Linked DNA regions of Homo sapiens: region 1 is linked to region 2. The links come from fine-mapping of genetic effects on gene expression. A gene starts in region 2. The other region holds a variant in brackets. All regions are shown on one strand. Distances are from middle to middle.

Region 1 (5,304 bases), 96 kb before region 2:
TGCAGCATGGGGGAGGGAGGAGAGAGAAGAAAGATTCAGAGCTTCACAATGAGAACTATGAGAGCAAGATATGTTGCAGGAGGGAAGACTGGAACATTCAGCCTCAGCAACACAGTCTGGCCCCAGCTAACAAGCCTCCTTCTGGGCCCCTCCTCGAGAGTGAACTAATCTGGCCAGAGAGGAGCAAAATAGTGGCCTAGAAGGACAAGAGGCCTAGAGCTCAAAGAGCCAAGTTCCTGACTGTGTGGCCTTGGGCAAATCAGTTGCCCTTTCTGGGCCTCAGTGTTCTCCTTTGCAAAGGGCTGTCCTAAGGATCACGTGGGATCTAAGATGGAAAAATACTTGTAAACTTTACACTGTAAGAGATTATTACCCACCCCAGCCCCAATCAACAAGGATGTTAGAAACTCACTCCCAGGCCTCAATTCAGCCAGATCTCTGGCCTTGGGCAACTGTACCTTTGCATTTATACATCCTTCCAAATACAGAGCACCCCCGGCCCGGGGATCCACAAGTCTAACAGTCCCAGGCCAAGAGGCTGCCACTCTGGCTGTGTGTCTACTGAGTGCCCGCCAGACCTTGTGCCAACAGCTTGACACTGATCATCTTCCTGCCCTCCCAGCAAGACCCTTTTCTCCCAGCTTCCTCCAGAGTGAAGAGGGGGTCCCAGAGCTCTGCAGGGTCCTCCAGCCCCCACACTGGCCCCTCCCCAACACAGCCCCACCCCCACAGATTGCCCTGAAGACCAGCAGAGCTACCCTCCAGGGGGCCCTTTCTTCCTGTTCACTTCAACCATTTTGAGAGGCCATCTTCATACCCTGGGCTCTGTCACTGTGCAGCTCTGTCCATCCTTTACTGTGACACCAACTCCCACCTTCCCCAACCCTGCCTTCAACCCCTGGGTTCCTCTTCACTTTCTTGCTTCAGCCTGGCTCTTCCTTTCAGGCACTAACTCCCTGGCATCCCCTCAACGTGCGACTATCTTCTCTCCATACACAACCTCTTCCCTGGCCTAAAGAGAAGTCTTTCTTGCTCCTTACTGCCACTTCCAGATCACTTTCCCTTTATCTGCCTTAAAAATGCACAATGGCTCACATCTGTAATCCCAACATTTTGGGGGGCCAAGCGGGAGGATCACTTGAGCCCAGGAGCCTGGGCAACATGGCAAGACCCTGTCTCTGCAAAAAAAAAAAAAAAAATTAGCCAGGCATGGTGGCATGTGCCTGTGGTCTCAGCTCCTTGAGAGGCTGAGGTGGGAGGATCTCGAGTCCAGGAGGTCAAGGCTGCAGTGAGCCAAGATTGTGCCATGGCACTCCAGCCTCAAAAAAAAAAAAAAAAAAAAAAAAAAAATCCCCAGCTTTGAAGCTCAGGGCAAAGCAGCCCTGCTTGTTTCAGTCACCTAGATATCGATATGGAACCTCCAGAACAGTTTTCCCATGCCATTTTTCAACAGCTTGGGCAACTGCCTGTCACTCTCTCCTGTACTACCTCTGTCACACGTTCTAGTGATTTCCATATCCACGTAGATGATCCTTCCAGTACCCGGGCCTCCCAGTTCCTGGACATCCTTTCCTCCCTGATCTTGTGCTCTGCCTACCCAAGCCACTTGCTCTGTTGGCCATTCCCTAAACTTTGTCATTAACAAAGCCCCTTCTGTGACTTCAATTTCAAGCAACTCATGCTCCACCAGCTTTCTAATTTCCTCCAGTTCCCCAATTCCAATAACTTGTTGACACTACACTCAGGACTTGTAGTCCCTTTTTCCTCCTGCCCCCTCACTGGCTTCTCCACATCCTGTCTTTCCTCCTTTCCTAGCTCATATGCTGTGGTCCAGAATCAAGATGAGTTCTTTACATATTTGACTCCCTCACCTTTGCAGGCACCTGGCAACACCAAACCCCATGCAATTGCAATGTTCTGTTGACTGAGTCCATTCCCACACAGACAACCATGCTGACCGCTCTCTTTGCATTCACAGCCGCGGACTCCAGGGAGGCCCTAGGGCTGCATCAATCCTACTCAATCTCCCCAGTCCACGCACTCTTCCACCCCCAAGTGACCAGTCACATCTTTTCTTCTTTCAAATCTCCAACACCTCCTTCCCTCTCTCCTCATTCTCAACTGAGGACCTTCCTTCCTACAACACGGAGAAGATGGGAAGACTCAGAAGAGACTCTCCATGTACTTCTGCCACACCAGCTACCACCCTACCTGTACCTACAGAGCCTGCCCTTCCTCCTGGTGCTAAGTTTGGACTTTCCACATATGTAAGGCACTAGATTCTGTCTTCTTTCTCCTTCTCCAGGACTTCACTCCGGTCACTGTCTCGTCTCTGGAGCATCACTTATGCTCTTTAGTCGATAATTTCCAACAGCATATTAACATTCTGCTACATCACCCTCCTTAGAAAAGCCTCCCTCGACTCCACATTTCCCTCTAGCTTCAGCTCATGCTCTCTCCTCCCCTAGGCAATTTCCACTATAGAGCTGTCAATACTGGCTCCAACTCCTCCCCCATTCCCTCCC[G/A]AACCCACTCTAGGGTGGTCCTGTCACACCCTTAAATGACTCAGTCAAGGCTATAAGTGACTGTTGCATGTACATGCCATGGTCAATTCCCGCTTGACATCCAGAAGCATCTGATGTGGTATTTGAAACACCCGTCCGTGGCTGGCAGGATGCCACATTCCCAGCTTACACTCCTCCTCCAGTCTCCCCTACCAATTCCCCCTGACACCCTTGGCCTCTAATGTGGGAGGCCTGGCACCCAGCCCTTTGAGCTTCCCTTCTTCTCCATCTGCCCTCACCTCCAGGGTGATTTCATCCAGTCCCACAGCTCTATACACATGCTGATGATGCCAACATCTGCATCTCCAGGCAAGTCCTCTCCCTGAACTCCAGGCTTGAATGGAAAACTTACTTGACACCTTGGGTGTCTAGAAGGACACCCAGATGCTATTGGTCTGAACACGTCAAAAGCCGAATACCAGCTGTACGATCCCATTTCCGAACATCTAAACCTGCCCTGAGTCTCCCTCATCTTGCTAAATGGCAACTCTATCCTTTTTTTTTTTTTTAATGGAGATGGAATCTCACTCTGTCGCTCAGGCTGGAGTGAAATGGCACAATCTCGGCTCCCTGCAACCTCCGCCTCCTGGGTTCAAGCAATTCTCCTACCTCAGCCTCCCGAGTAGCTGGGACTACAGGCGCACGCCGCTACGCCCGGCTGATTTTTTGCATTTTTTAGTAGAGACAAGGTTTCATCATGTTGCCCAGGCTGGTCTCAAACTCCTCAGCTCAGGCAATCCACCTGCCTTGGCCTCCCAAAGTGCTAGGATTACAGGCAACTCCATCCTTCTTACTACTCAGGTACAAAACTTTGGAGGCATCCTTGACTCCTTTTTCCTTTATCCCTCATGCCCATCAGGAACTCTTCTCAGCTCTACCTTCAAAATACATCCAGAAGCCAGTCACTTCCCACCACTTCCACTGCCACTCTGGGCCGTGCCCCACCATCTTTTGCCTGGATTGATCACTGCAACTGCCTCCTAATGGGCCTCTCTGATTCTGTCCTTTCCCCTGCCCAGTCTTGTCCACAGAGCAGCTGGAGAGCTTTTAAGTCAGATCATGCCTCACCTTCTTCAGGGCCCTACAATGGCTTCTCATCTCATGCAGAGTAACGGCCCGAGTCCCTACAATGCCCCTGCAAGCCCTGCATGATATGGCCCTGTGACCTCTCTTTATTTATTATTATTTTTTGAAATGGAGTCTCACTCTGTTACCCAGGCTGGAGTACAATGGCGCAATTTCAGCTCACTGCAACCTCCACCTCCCAGGTTCAAGAGATTCTCGTGCCTCAGCCTCCCGAGTAGCTGGGATTACAGGCGTGTGCCACCACACCCAGCTAATTTTTGTATTTTTGGTAGAGACAGGGTTTCACCATGTTGGCCAGGCTGGTCTTGAACTCCTGACCTCAGGTGATCCACCCGCCTCGGCCTCCCAAAGTGCTGGGATTACAGGTATGAGCTACTGCACCCGGCCTCTCTCACTTCATTTCTAAGCATGCTCCTCTGCTCCAGCCACCCTAACCTTCTTACTGTATCTTGAACTTGCCAAGCACATTCTAGCCTTAGGAATTTGCATTTGCTGTTCTCTCTGCTTGTAACACTTCCTCCCCAGACATCCACATGGCTGGCTCCCTCACTGTCTTCAGGTCTTTGCTAAAATATTACCTCATCAAAGAGTTTTTCCCTGACCTCCATATTTAAAATAGGACCCTCACTGCCCTACCCTAGCCCCTCCCCATTACCATCTTTATCCTGCCTTGTTTTGGTCCATATGACTTAACAGCATCTGATATACCATATACAGATGCTCCCTGACCTACACTGGGGTTACGTCCCAATAAACCCATTGCAAGTTGAAAATATTGTAAGTCGGCCAGGTGCGGTGGCTCATGCCTGTAATCCTAGCACTTTGGGAGGCCGAGGCGGGCAGATCACTTGAGGTCAGGAGTTCAAGACCAGCCTGGCCAACATAATGAAACCCCATCTCTACTAAAAATACAAAACTTAGCTGGGCGTGGTGGCACGCACCTGTACACCCAGCTACTCAAGAGGCTGAGGTAGGAGAATCACTTGAATCCAGGAGGTGGAGGTTGCAGTGAGTCAAGATCATGCCACTGCACTCCAGCCTGGGCGACAGAGTGAGACTCTGTCTCAAAAAAGAAAAAGAAAATATCGTTAAGTGAAAAATGCATGTAATACCCATCATGAAGTTAAAAATTGCAAGCTGAACCATTGTTAATTGGGGACTATTTATATTTTATATACTTATTGTCTATTTCTTTACTAGAATGTTCTGAGGGCACAGATTGTTCACTACTGTACCCTTAGCAACTAGACTAGTAGGTGATTACTAAATATTTTGTGAATGCATGAATGAACAAATGAATGAGAATAAATCTCATTTGTTCACCCCAACAGCCCTGTGAGTGGGTACTATTATCATCATCCCCATTTTACAGAAGAAGCAACTAAATAGGGCCCAAATATGACATAGCCCAGGTGTGGCAGAACCTGTGCTCCAACCTAGCTCTGCTTCTCCCAAAGCCTCATGCACAGGTCATCATCGGACACGGGGGGCTACCATTTCAACAAGTACCTACCACAAGCCAGGCTCCGTGCTATCATCTTTAACCTGCACACACACCCTGTGAGATAAGTGCCCTCACAACATTTTATAAAGTAGAAAACAGGAGTCAAAAAGATTAAGAAACCTTCTCAAAGTCACACAGCCAGTAAGGTCT
Region 2 (5,369 bases):
GCAGAATGGTATTAAATAGAATTTGTCACTTAAAGCAAAAACAGAAAAATACTTGAGGACACAAACATTTTATTTACTGAGAAAGAAACTACAGTATAGACATTTGTGTACAGACATAATTTGTTTCTTACTCCTGAAAAAAACAAATTAGCATGCAGCTCCTTATTTAAATCTCATGTGGGGCCTCTCTGTTGCTCTCTTCCAACCTCTGGCCTCTCCCACTCAGTCTCCTTTGCTGCCTTTTCTCATCTCCCCAGTATCTAAAGTTTGGAAACCTCAAGGCTTCAGACCTCTTCTCCATCTCCATTAATTTCCAAGGTAATCTCATCCAGTGTTTTGTTTTGTTTTTGAGACAGGATCTGGCTCTGTTACCCAGGCTGTAGTGCACTGGCATGATCTCAGCTCACTGCAACCTCTGCCTCCCCGGTTCAGGCAATTCTCATGTCTCAGCCTCCTGAGTAGCTGGGATTACAAGCATGTGCCACCACGACCAGCTAATTTTTTTGTATTTTTAGTAGAGACAGAGTTTCACCAAGGTGGGAGGATCTCTTGAGGCCAGGAGTTCAAGACCAGCCTGGGCAACACAGGGAGATTCCCATCTCTATTAAAAAAAAAAAAATTGCTGGCTGTGTGGCATTCACCTGTAGTCCCAGCTACTTGGGAAGTTAAGGTGGGAGGGCTGCTTGAGCCAAGGAGTTCGAGGCTGCAGTGAGCTGTGATCACGCCACTGCACTCCAGCCTGGGACAAGATGCTCAAATAAATAAATAAATAAAATACTATCACCTCTCCACATAACACTAGTACTTTTATTTACCTTACCATGCTTTTTCTGTCCCTATCTAATTATTATGTAATATACTTACCAAAATGCAAATTCCACAAGTGCAAAAGCATTGTTTTATCGAATGCTGTATTCCCAGCTCCTACCTAAAACACAGCCTGGTTTATAACAAGTGCCCATTATTACTGACTATTATAGGACATTAGGTAACATGATCCATATTATCACCAATGGTCTTGCAAAATGCTAACAGCTCTATTACCTATATAAAAAGCAAAAAAACAGGCTGGGTGTGGTGGCTCACAACTGTAATCCCAGCACTTTGGGAGGCTGAGTTGGGCAGATCATTTGAGGCCAGGAGTTCGAGACCAGCTTGGCCAACATGGCAAAACCCCATCTCTCCTAGAAATACAAAAATTAGCCAGGCACGGTGGCGGGCGCCTGTAATCCCAGCTACTCAGGAGGCTGAGGCGGGAGAATCGCCTGAACCTGGGAGACAGGATGTTCCAGTGAACCCAGATCGCACCACTGCACTCCAGCCTGGGTGACTGAGACCAGGTCTCAAAAAAAAAAAAAAAAGTGGGGGGAGGCATATAACTTATAGCTTGGTCAGTGGCAGAGCAATGACTGAACCCCAATCTGATTCCAAATTCTACACTCTCTCCATTACATTAGCTGTTAAAGCATGAACATTACATTAGTTAAAGCATGGACTACGAACTCACAGCTCTGTGAGGGGCACTTCTTAAATAGTGAGCGATAATGACACCTATGTCTGCAGCTTTCTGATCGAAAAGGAGCAAAGAAAGATAGAAGAACTAAAGGAACAGAGGGCGTACCAGTAGCCTTGGTTTTGTTGTGACCTCTATAAATCTGGGACCAGTTCTCCTTTCTAAGCCTTCGCGGTAAAATACTGATCACAAGCCTAGCCTCCAATAACTCCCAGGGCCAAAGTAAAGATCAATTCAACAGACGTTGATTAAACCCAAAGGCAATCTAGTCAAGTCATCAAATGCCCTGGGGACAGTTTCCCAGCTCCATCCACTTATTAGTTGTGGGACTCCTGGCAAATTACTTTTTCTATGAATACCTCAGTTTCTTCATGGGTAAAACGTGAAGCTATAGAAAGAACTCACCCCATAGGATTGTTGGGAAGATTAAATAGGCCTTTGGCTGAGCGCGGTGGCTCACGCCTGTAATCCCAGCACTTTGGGAGGCCGAAGCGGGCGGATCACCTGAGGTCGGGAGTTCGAGATCAGCCTGACCAACATGGAGAAACCCCGTCTCTACTAAAAACATAAAATTAGCCGGGTGTGGTGGCGCATGCCTGCAATCCCAGCTACTTGGGAGGCTGAGGCAGGAGAATCGCTTGAACCCGGGAGGCGGAGGTTGAGGTGAGCCGAGATCGCGCCATTGCACTCCAGCCTGGGCAACAAGCGCGAAACTCCGTCTCTAAATAAATAAATAAATGGGCCCTTATGTGTAATGCATTCAGTAGCACCTGACAATTTGTGATCATTCCGTACAGTAAGCCATGACTATTATCATCACGTGCTAGGCCCTGGGATCTAGAGATGAAAAAGGCAAGGCATAACATCTAACGAACGAGCTTACGGTGTCAACGAGGGGCCGGGAAAGTAACTCGGTGCACAGCGAGTGCAAAAACCGAGAAGCGAATGCAGCTGCGCCTGGAGAAGGCGGCTGAGAAGCGATACTTCAGCAGGGTCCTGAAGAATGGGAGCTCCAGAGTCGGGTGGCGGGTGGGACTGGGCTTTCGGATAGATTACGTGCAAATCCGCCAGGACACAGGGAGCGAGGGGCGGGGGGGCGGCAGAGCGCGGCGCCTCACCCTCCCAGCCTGGGATTGCGGCTACTGGACACGAGGGTCGGGAAGCTCTCCTTCGGCGCCGACTGGAGCTTAGCGTGCTGGCGGCAGCAAGAAGCTGAGGCAAGCGGGCCCCGGGCCCTAACGACGCGTCCCAGCCCCTCTCTGGGCCTCGGGTTCCTCCCGGGTAACAAGAGGCCGCTGCCCGAACGGGATTCCCTCAGGCGCCCTAGACGGGCGGGTCTCCGGGCCTCGGACGGTTAACCCGAGCACCTCCCACCTGCCCCTGAGGCCCCACCTCACCACGCTCGGCTCCCGCAGACGCCCGGCTAGTTGCTCCGCGATTGAGCTGCGGCAGCCGCTGCTAAGGCCCTGCGGGGGACGGGGGCGGAGCCCACCCCGAGGCAGAGGGCCAGGCCCCGCCCCCCCAAACTCCCGCCCTTTGGGAGGGGCCCGCCCCTCCAAGTCCTGCACCTATAGGCAGACTGAGCCGGCGCAGGGCCTCCCGCCATGTTGGGTATTGGCAGCCGACTTACTAGAGAGGCCCTGAAGGAAAGGGGGTATTATTTTAAGAATTATAAGATCCCTAGCCAGAAATGGGGACGGTCAGGGTCTCTGGATTCGCGAAAGGGACATTTCGGAAGCAGAAAAGAAAAATTGCCCTCAATCATTTCGCTTTTGGCTTCAGTGTTACATACAGCGCATGTGCAAGGTCACCTGGTTCTAGGTGCGCCTGCGCACAGCTCCACCTACAAACCAGACTACAATTACAACTGCCGAGAAACAAAGGGGCTCGCTGCCACTGGTTAGCGATAATACTGGCAGCGCGACCGGTTTCTGAGGGTTGTTCACCTTGCTGCTCAGACGCTCCGAGAAGCTTCAGGCAGCATAACACTTACAGGCGAGTTACTTACTCAACACTCGGTTTTGTCTGCATGTCTCTGCACAGAGTGTTACCTTTACCTGACTTAATCCGTCCCGGAGCTGCAGTTCTGCTTAAGCCTGACTTCTAGAGAACTTTTTCTTCCCAATAGGACCCATGCGTTATTCCTGTAGCATTTTGTGTATAAATTTTTTTTTTTTTTTTTGAAATGGAGTCTTGCTCTGTCGCCAGGCTGGAGTGCATTGGCACGATCTCGGCTCACTGCAACCTCTGCCTCCCAGGTTCAAGTAATTCTCCTGCCTCAGCCTCCCGAGTAGCTGGGACTACAGGCGCCCGCCACCACGCCCGGCTAATTTTTGTATTTTTAGTAGAGACAGGATTTCACCATGTTGGCCAGGATGGTCTCGATCTCTCTTGACCTCGTGATCCTCCCGCCTCGGCCTCCCAAAGGGCTGGGATTACAGGCGTGAGCCACCGCGCCCGGCCTTGTGTATAAATTGTTAATGCACTTTCTTAGAGTTGTAAACTCCATTTACCTGCCTCACTCTTGCACTCAGTGGTTCTCAATTTTTAGTAGGAATTAAAAACAAAACTGGTAAATGCAGACTCTTGGTTTCCACCCCCAGAGAATCCCTAAACCGGGGGTGGAGTCCAGGAATCTGCATTTTAGAAAGTACCCAGGGTGATTCTGATAATTGGGAACACGTTTTAGGAAGCGCTGCATGAGATTGTGAGCTTGAGCGTAGAGACTGTAATTTGGTCATCTGACTATAGCGCTCAGCACAAGGCCTGGTACAAAATAGGTGCTCAATAAGTGCTGAGTGAATGGGTGAATGAGTGGATAGCTCGAGTGAAACAGCAAGGCTTCAGGTTAATCCACAGCCAAAGGTAACCTGAGAAAGGAACGCTTAAAAGCTATATTTTATCTTTCTCCTGTAAGAACACAAAAAAGATCTTAATAGCTAATTTGAGAAATAGAGAAAGTGGAGAGTAAAAGGGGAAGGAAGGACACGGATTCTGAAAGGCAAACTATCTAGAGAGGGGAAAAGGAACATCTCCAGGCACTAGACAGAGAAAACGATGCAAAGAAGCAGTGGTGTGGGATTCCATCCTAGGGAAATAATCCCACAACAGGCATTGTGCTTGAATGTTCACTGCAACAATATTTGAAATACAAATGAAACAATCTAAATATTATGCACATCAAGCTCTTTTCTGCCTCAGGGCGTTTGCATACACTATGCCAGCTACCTAGACCACTTTTCCCCCAGCTCTTGGCCTAGCTGGTACCTTCCTGTCCTTCAGGTCCCAGCTTAAATGATACTTCCTCAACTAGGTCTTCCCTGACCATGCTATCTAAAGTAATACCCTATACTTTCTAGGATAGTCTTCTGTTTCTTTTCTTTTTGAGACGGGGTCTTGCTTTGTCGCCCAGGCTGGAGTGCAGCGGCGCAATCTCGGCTCACTGCAAGCTCCACCATCCGGGTTCACGCCATTCTTCTGCCTCAGCCTCCCCAATAGCTGGAACCACAGGTGCCCGCCACCACGCCCGGCTAATTTTTTTGTATTTTTAGTAGAGACGGGGTTTCACCGTGTTAGCCAGGATGGTCTTGATCTCCTGACCTCGTGATCCGCCCGCCTCAGCCTCCCAAAATGCTGGCATTACAGGCATGCGCCACCGCACCCGGCCGTCTTCTGTTTCTTTCATAGCACTTTCCATTTATTATTTTGTTTTCCTATTAACATTCCCTCCAAAATTTAAGCTTTGTGTGGATAGGAGACTTATTCCTGGGATTTAGCACAGTCTTACACACATGGTAGGTATCAAGTAAGTGTCCATTGAATGAATGAATCAAGTCAGCCCTAGTGTTACAAAGTT

Which allele goes with the higher level. Alleles are on the strand shown, and positions count from the first base shown. SD is a standard deviation of normalised expression in the study named.
With allele A in place of G in region 1, the expression in lymphoblastoid cells of the gene that starts at base 2,550 in region 2 is higher (large effect, 1.5 SD a copy in CAP).

What was found. PIP is the estimated chance that this variant, and not a neighbour inherited with it, causes the effect. A credible set is the group of variants that fine-mapping cannot tell apart.
Region 1: its variant is the best candidate, but not a certain one, in a credible set for the expression of CEP250 in lymphoblastoid cells (CAP, PIP 0.59).

The regions. Positions count from the first base shown.
Region 1 is chr20:35,549,067-35,554,370 of GRCh38, reverse strand. The region is part of intron 7 of ERGIC3 (ERGIC and golgi 3); the gene reads right to left. Among named protein-coding and RNA genes, the nearest start is that of ERGIC3, 9.6 kb to the right of the region's middle. The variant G/A (reference allele first, on the strand shown) is at 2,526.
Region 2 is chr20:35,452,779-35,458,147 of GRCh38, reverse strand. It overlaps CEP250 (centrosomal protein 250), which reads right to left and starts at 2,550. Exons shown (of 35, transcript NM_007186.6): 1 at 2,397-2,550. It overlaps MIR1289-1 (microRNA 1289-1), which reads left to right and starts at 4,051; the gene lies at 4,051-4,194. It also overlaps a transcript of GDF5 not described here. RefSeq lists a silencer at 2,756-3,135 and enhancers at 3,156-3,305, 3,566-3,615.